Linked DNA regions of Homo sapiens: regions 1 and 3 are each linked to region 2. The links come from fine-mapping of genetic effects on gene expression. A gene starts in region 2. Each other region holds a variant in brackets. All regions are shown on one strand. Distances are from middle to middle.

The links. PIP is the estimated chance that this variant, and not a neighbour inherited with it, causes the effect.
Region 1: its variant is fine-mapped to the expression of CMPK1 in thyroid (GTEx, PIP 0.98).
Region 3: its variant is fine-mapped to the expression of CMPK1 in whole blood (INTERVAL, PIP 0.97).

The regions. Positions count from the first base shown.
Region 1 is chr1:47,385,439-47,388,199 of GRCh38, forward strand. It overlaps LINC01389 (long intergenic non-protein coding RNA 1389), which reads right to left. Exons shown (of 5, transcript NR_126355.1): 4 at 810-918. Among named protein-coding and RNA genes, the nearest start is that of FOXE3, 29 kb to the right of the region's middle. RefSeq lists a silencer at 2,519-2,761. The variant C/T (reference allele first, on the strand shown) is at 1,681.
Region 2 is chr1:47,332,373-47,335,133 of GRCh38, forward strand. It overlaps CMPK1 (cytidine/uridine monophosphate kinase 1), which reads left to right and starts at 1,418. Exons shown (of 6, transcript NM_016308.3): 1 at 1,418-1,744. The coding sequence starts at 1,574. RefSeq lists a silencer at 1,331-1,970 and enhancers at 1,357-2,160, 2,161-2,761, 2,481-2,540.
Region 3 is chr1:47,381,900-47,384,660 of GRCh38, forward strand. The region is part of intron 4 of LINC01389 (long intergenic non-protein coding RNA 1389); the gene reads right to left. Among named protein-coding and RNA genes, the nearest start is that of FOXE3, 33 kb to the right of the region's middle. The variant A/G (reference allele first, on the strand shown) is at 1,469.

The DNA.
Region 1 (2,761 bases), 53 kb after region 2:
AGCAGGATTTCATTCAGTATGCTGAGCATTTGTTGAATGTCTTTTTAACCATATTTAAAACAAGAACCAATGCCTCAGGCCCTGCCCCCAGAAATTCTAATTTAATTACTTTTATTTTATTTTATTTTATTTTTGAGACAGAGTCTCACTCTGTCATTCGGGCTGGAGTACAGTGGTGCAGTCTTGGTTCACTGCAACCTCTGCCTCCCAGGTTTAAGTGATTCTGCCTCAGCCTCCCAAGTAGCTGGGACTACAGGCACATGCCACCACACCTGGATAATTTTTGTATTTTTAGTAGAGGTGGGGTTTCACCATGTTGGCCAGGCTGGTCTCGAACTCCTGACTTCAAGTGATCCCCCTGCCTTTGCCTCCCAAAGTGCTGGGATTGAAGGCATGAACCACCGCGCCTGGCCTCTTATTTATTTATTTATTTATTTAGAGCCAGAGTCTCGCTCTGTTGCCAGGCTGGAGTGCAGTGGCGCGATCTTGGCTCACTGCAACCTCTGCCTCCCGGGTTCGAGCGATTCTCCTGCCTCAGCCTCCCGAGTAGCTGCGACTACAGGCATGTGGCCCCACGCCCAGCTAATTTTTGTATTTTTAGTAGAGACGGGCTTCACCATGTTGGCCAGGATGGTCTCGATCTCTTGACCTCATGATCCGCCTGCCTCGGCCTCCCAAAGTGCTGGGATTATAGGCGTGAGCCACGCTCCCAGCCCTGCATTTCTTTTATGTGTAAAGTGATACTGATATTGATACTTTGAGAACCACCACAGTAAACAAAGTGATCAGAGCAGATAATGAAAACTCACAGCCTTGTATCTTTGTGGGCAAGGGATCAAGTCTTGGTCTTTTTGATGCATTCGCTCATAAGTTCAACTTGGTCTTTTTGATGCATTCACTCATAAGTTCATCGCAGCACTATACACAATAGCAAAGACATGGAATCAAGTCAGGTGCCCTTCAGCGGTGGACTGGATAAAGAAAATGTGGTACATATACACCCTGGAATACTATGCAGCCATAAAGAAAACCCAAAAGTATGCCCTTTGCAGCAACATGGATAAAGCTGGAGGCCATTATCCTAAGCGAATTAATACAGGAACAAAAGTAAATATATGTTCTCACTTAAAAGTGGGAGCTAAGCATTGGGTACGCATGGACACAAAGATGGGAACAATAGACACTGGGGGCTGCAAAAGAGTGAGAGGCAAGGAAAAACTACCTATTGGGAATTATGCTCACTACCTGGGTGACAAGATCAATTGTACCCCATACCTCAGCATCATGCAATATAACCATTAAGAGACCTGCACATGTATTCCCTGAATTTAAAATAAAAGTTGAAAAAAAAAAAGTCTTGGTCTTTTTATCCACAGTGTCTAGCACAGAGTAGGTACTTAGTGTTGATGAATTGACAGTTGGTGACAAACCATAGTGAAAGCTCACAAATTAAACAGCTGCTTAGTCTGCTGCCATTCCTGAGCTCACAGAGTGAGAGGGAAGTACTGCATGCAACAGTATCACAAATGCTCTCCCACTAAGGGAGTTGTCACATGGATGGCAGCTTGGCATAGTGGGCTTTCTATAATCTTACTTAGCAGCTGCCACTGTCTTAAAAGGTGAGGAGAGGCTGGGCACGGTGGCTCATATCTGTAATCCCAGCACTTTGGGAGGCCGAGG[C/T]AGGTGGATCACTTGAGGTCAGGTGTTCCAGACCAACCTGGCCAACATGGTGAAACCCCGTCTCTACTAAAAATACAAAACATTAACCAGGCATGGTGACTAGTGCTTGTAGTCCCAGCTACTTAGGAGGCTGAGGCAGGAGAATTGCTTGAACCCAGGAGGTGGAAGCTGCAGTGAGCCAAGATTACACCACTGTACTCCAGCCTGGTGACAGAGTGAGACTCCATATCAAAACCAAAAACAAAATGGTGAGGAGAGGCCAGGGGACTACCACCACTGTCTACAATCCTCTGAAGGGAGATGGAGTACATGTATTCAATGTGGGCTTGAGGGCAGAACTAGGGCAGTGGAAACAACATAAGGAAGACCGTCTAAGGTCAGAGCCACCCAACACTGAATTGGAGCGCCTGAGGACATGATCACCGTCCCTGGAAGTGTGCACGCAGGCCCTGGATGCTTATTTGGCAGAATGCTTTAGTCTTTCACTCTGGAGATTCTGTGGTTTGGGGATCATCTTCTTCAAGTAGGTATCTAAGTCTGAAGTCCACCTGGAATTCCAGACATACTCTCTGACACATAAGAGTTCCCTGTATATACAAGTGGGGAGGAAAGGCTAAGGGGCATCATGAGGATCTGTGCCTTACCATAAGAACCCAAATGCTGAGAAGTTTCCCTAAGCCTCTGTTTCTGCCTCCCACCCCCTCCCTGGGTGTCCTCCCCAGTGCCTGGGATAAGTGCTTAACAAAGTTTACTGGCATTAATGCTGTTGGTGGGCAGGAGGTGCCCAGTTTGCATTGGAAAAGAGAGAAACAGCAGTAGCAAAAAGATAGCAGTGAGGGACAGGAGAGACCCACTTAGCTGGAGGGGGTGAGGGTCCATGCACCAAATAATGGGAGATAGGAGTATGCAAAGATAAAGCGATAAACCTTTCATAACAGGTAAAGGAAGGTGAATTTTATCCAGTGTCTGTTTAGCTGAGTCCAGACTAGGAAGCTGGGCTGCATGAGTCAGTTTGACAAGGGCTTTTTAGATTTAGGAGGCTGCTCCGTTTTCCTCCTCCTCCTCTTCACTGTAAGCTGTC
Region 2 (2,761 bases):
TGGTCTCACCCTGGACCTTGGCATCATCAGAAACTCAGAAGCTGGGACATTTCAATTCCAAATATCCCACTCAGACCAGCAGCATCCATACTGCCAGAGCACTTGCTCATATACCCCACTGCAATCTTTCTTGGGCCAATGCTCTAAGACATTGGTCCCTTTCCCCACCACCCTCCAACCCCTCCACTACCAGGCTTCATGTGCCATTATTTGCTTTCCTGTATGGTTTTGATTCTACACACAGCATCATGAACATTCTCTTCCAAACACTCTCATCACTTGGCCCCCTCTCTCTGTTGTACTTGCCAGGCAAAATCCCAACCCTCAGTAAATGCAACAAGCTGCCTTCTCTGCCTGTGCCTGAATGGCCAAACATCTTCAATTATTTTGAATCCGTTACCTCAAATATCAAATGAGCTCTTAACGTTGGCCAGAAGGCCTTTTAAAGGCCTGTATGCACCAAGGCTCAGTTCTTGAACGTCTCCTTTTCTTCTCCCTTAAGATTCTTCCCTAATGAAGGGGGCAGGCGAACGGAGTTAAAGGGCTTCCATTGCTGTTAGAATACAGCCCAAATTCCTTTCCATAATCAAAAGTCCTGATCTGCCACCGACCTCACTTTCTCAACTTTTCACCTTCCATTCTCCCCTCATTTGACTCAGCCCTGGTCTCACTGTCACTGGCCTTTTTTCCTTTTTTTTTTTTGAAGCAGTCTCATTGTCACCTAGGCAGGAGTGCAGTGGTGCTATTACGGCTCCTAGGCTCAAGTGAACATCCCAGTAGCTGGGATCACAGGCACGGGTCACGGTGCCCGGCTTTTAAATTTTTGGTCGAGACGGGGTCTCGTCATGTTGTCCAGGCTGGTCTCGAACTCCTGGGCTCAAGCCATCCTCCTGCCTCAGCCTCCCAAAATGCTGGGATTACAGGCGTGAGCCACCGCGCCCAGCCAGGCCTTCCTTCAATTGCTTTAACATGCCAAACCAACTTAGATTTTTTGCACATGCTTTTCTCTGTGGGACACTCTATCCTGGTGTTTGCCTGGTTTCGCTCTTTTCTATCCTTTTGTCTTGGCTTGAATGTCACCTCTTCTGAAGCCTTCTCTGGCGACCCTGGCCATCTTATGTCCTACTTGTTATTTCTTCAAAATCGTACTGCCTTTTGTATGTACTGGTGTTTACTCATTCACACTGGCTACCTCCCCATACCTCACTGGCTGGAATGGAAACTCATTGCGAGCAGAGACAATAGGTTTTGCTCTCCCGCGGATCACGTCCCAGCCTCCAGCTCAGCACCAGACACTTGAGGGCGCAGGATAAAATATCTGCAGTCAGAAAGCACTAATAACCACCCAAGGGTTGGAGGAAAGCTGGCGCGGACCGCACGAGTGTCGCCGAGACGCCGCCGCCGTGCGAAGCTCCTCCCCTTCCGACAGGGCCGCGGACGCCCGGGCAGCCACGGCGGCGGGGCCGCGGCGGGCGCCGGCTCAGCCCGCCCCTTTCTCCCGCCGCCTCCCCGCCCCGCCCCGCGCCGCGCCGGCCGCTGTCAGCTCCCTCAGCGTCCGGCCGAGGCGCGGTGTATGCTGAGCCGCTGCCGCAGCGGGCTGCTCCACGTCCTGGGCCTTAGCTTCCTGCTGCAGACCCGCCGGCCGATTCTCCTCTGCTCTCCACGTCTCATGAAGCCGCTGGTCGTGTTCGTCCTCGGCGGCCCCGGCGCCGGCAAGGGGACCCAGTGCGCCCGCATCGTCGAGGTGAGGCCCGGGCAGCAGGCGGGCTCCTTGGGGCTTGACGGGATGCGGGCCGGCCTGTCCCGCCGCCCCTAGTCCGCGCCCCGCGGAGTCGCCGAGCCGCAGACTACGAGTCCCGGCGGCCACCGCGCCGCCCGCGTGGCAGTGGCCGAGGGCCGCCGGCGCGCGGCGTGCCGGGACTTGTAGTCCGCGCCCGCCCGCCTTGGGGGCCACCGCTTGAGGTCGCTTTGTTCCTGCGCCCCTTCTTTTCTTACATTTTGGGGACCAGATTCGTCTCTAGAGTGGGCTGGGAGAGGGATCCCGGAGGCCAACCTTTGGGGGTCCCCCAGCGCGCAGAGGTTAGCGTGTCGCTGATCGTGTGGCAGGTGAAGGCAGCAGGAGCGCGGATTTGGGTTAGAGGCCGTGTGCGCCCACAGTTGTCTGAAGGAGAGACCTATTTTTCTTCTCCGCGCCTTCCCTCTGGTTCCCTAAACTCCGCACTGTCACCGAACGTGTCTTTACTCTAGAAAGGAGGCCCGTGGGGCGGGGTGTTATTTTAGGCGTGCTGTGGGCTGCCGCTGGCACTCTCGAGCCCCGTCCCCGCAAGCTTTAGGGCGGAGCCAGCCCTGAGGCTCGGCCCGGGTCGGGGATGGGGAAAGCCGGGAGTGCTGTTCTGAGATCAAGCTTCAACCTTTGGCCCTGCTGCCAACTCACGCTCGGCCCTCGGTCACTTCCTGTCTCCCAGCCTCAGTTAGCCCTTGTAATACAGTAAAAAGAGTCTCTGAACCCAGATTTTCTCAGGATATAAAACACCTCCCAAATGTAAAATGCTGTTACTTTTTTTTCTTTTGCTTTGAGACAGGTTACCAGTTCAATTCTTTTAACAATTTTTGAGCTAGATGTATGGTTGGTTAGCTGCATTGACACTGTGGGAAAAAAAGGCTTCATGGACAATCTGGGGAATGCTTGGGAAAGAAGGAAAACAGGATATCTAGAAACAGAAGAGGCGACCATTGGTGGCCTCTAGTGAAATCACTCTGA
Region 3 (2,761 bases), 50 kb after region 2:
GCCAGTCTAGTAGGTATGATTGTGAAGAGACTGCATCAAAACGTCCTTGACAAAATGTCACACTGTTTTCTTTTTAATTAACCAGGTGCACAATAAGCACTACCATTGTTCTATCCTCAGCTGGGATAATAGTCAAATGATACATTATTTACATGATTTGGAGGGGAAAATGCTGAAGTATAAAGACTCATTTTTTAGGGGCTGGGTGTGGTGGCTCACGCCTGTAATCCCAGCACTTTGGGAGGCTGAGGCCCGCAGATCACTTGAGGTCAGGAGTTTGAGACCAGCCTGGCCAACATGGTGAAACCCCGTCTCTACTAAAAATACATAAAATTAGCCGGGCATGGTGGCGTGCACCTGTAGTCCCAGCTACTCAGGAGGCTGAGGCAGGAGAATCACTTGAGCCTGGGAGGTGGAGGTTGCAGTGAGCCGAGATCATGCCACTGCACTCCAGCTTGGGCGACAGATCAAGACTCCGCCTCTAAATAAATAAATAAATAAAGACTAATTTTTTATTAGTCTTTAAACATTAAAATGAACAAGTTGAAACAGCTACATCAAAATCCCCCTGGTTCCAAAATAACTGTCAGAATGTCTATGTCATATTCAGTATCAAAGATGATTGAGCAGAGACTGTATCTATATTCCTTCCTTCCTTTCTCTGTTTAAGGCCTTTACTTAGGTCTGGATAAGTGCTGTCTGGGGAAAGAAGATAACTCCTGGACTTGCACTGCTGCTACTGTGTGCAAATGGAAATTCTGAAATGCAGGGGATGTGATGGGATGAGAGTAAAACCATTTGTATAGAGAAGCAGGATTTTGTTCCATCTAGTTCTACTTTATACGTGATGTTTCTTTTTTATTGTTCTTTTCTTTTCTTTTCTTTTTTTTTTTTTTTAAATGGTAGCAGCAGAGGAGGAGACACACAGCTCAGCCACCAGCCACAGGGGACATGATGGTTCTTGCTGGAACTTTTTTATTCTATCAATAATCACTCCCACAAAACACTGTGTCTTAATCTGTTCAAAAGTCTTCAGGTTCACAGGCCACACTCGCACTTCTCTCCACGAGTATTTTGTTGATGAAAATGGGATTAAGGAATGTGATTTCCTTAACACCATCTATCTTCATTTATCTTTAACTTGTGGTTTCAGTAATTTTGTGGCTATTTCTGAGTTTTGTTTATGTATTTGACTTAAGAAAGTAGCTGTTTATAGTCAGCAGCCAAATCATTGTTTTATATGACACAGATTATGGCTAGTTGGTGAAATAATAGCTAGGTACACATAGGAGGTATTACCACAGTCTGTAATCACATTCATGCAAGGGTCTGTCATTTTAATTTAGCTAACTGGTCACTAGCAAGCCAATTTTCAGAGATGCTGACCCCTGTGACTGGAATCAGATTTGTTGCAGGTAGTCCACATCTGCCTTAGGCCACGTGACTGTCACTGGACCAAGGGATGACA[A/G]TAGCACCAAAATAATCACATTACAAAATTTGGCTGGCCATTCATTCAAAATATGTTTGAGACATTGCGGATACAACAGTCAGTTAATGTACAACCACTACCCTCAACAGGCTTACTAGATAAGCTCAAATCCAGTGGTTTCTTAGCTGATTGTGTTTCTGTGTAGTGCTTTCATTGCTGGCAAACTTTTTTACCTCTGTGATTTTGTTTTCTTTTCCCAGCAATTCTGAGGCAGGTTGGAATGGTGATTTTCCTGTTTCAAGGATGATTAAACTGAGGCCCAAAGAGTTCAAGTCAATTGCCACAATCTTTATGCTAGAGAGTGGTGGGTTTGGAACTAGAACCCAGACCTCTGGGCCTTAAAGATCTGCCTCCCAGGTTGGGTGCGGTGTCTCATGCCTGTAATCCCAGCACTTTGGGAGGCTGAAGAGAGCAGATCACCTGAGGTCAGGAGTTTGAGACCAGCCTGGCCAACATGGTGAAACCCCATCTCTACTAAAAATAGAAAAATTAGCTGGGCATGGTGGCGTGCGCCTGTAATCTTAGCTACTTGGGAGGCTGAGGCAGGAGAATTGGTTGAACCTGGGAGGTGGAGGTTGCAGTGAGCCAAGATTGCGCCACTGCACTCCTACCTGAGATGGAGACTCTGTATCAAAAAAAAAAAAAAGATCTGCCTCCTGTCCAGTAGCCCCTGCTGCCTATCTGTAATAAGGCAATGTGACCTCTAATATACCCCCCGTGCTTCCCATCACTAGTCTATTACCCTTGTTTATTTTCTCAGTGCATATATCACCATGTGAAGTTACTTTTACTTATTGTTGATTTCCCCTCTAGATTTTAAGTGCCAGAAGAGCACTTACCTTGTTTATTCCTGTTTTCCAATACCTAGACCAGTGCCTGCACATAGTAGGCACTCAATATTTGTTGAAAAAATAAACTGAAATGGAAAAATATTTTTGGCAGTAGCTGTAGCTACAAGTTATATCACTGAATTTTGGATCCCAGTAGAGTCTGCTTGTGACCTCTTAGGATTCTATTTTCGTTCCCCCTGAAGATTGGGAGCTGATAATCGTAAAGTACTGGGACCCCATCAGCTTCCCTCTGTTTTCAGTACACAACTCATGAAAAGACTTACAATGTGACTATCTTGGAGAAAAAAAAAGAAAGGGATAAGAAAACAATGTTTGGGCGAAAAATCTCACCCACTCATCCATAGTTCAATCTATGTTGATAGATTTGTTTTACCTATTGTACCTCTGTTTCACTATATGTTAGGACATGGGAAATCTCTGC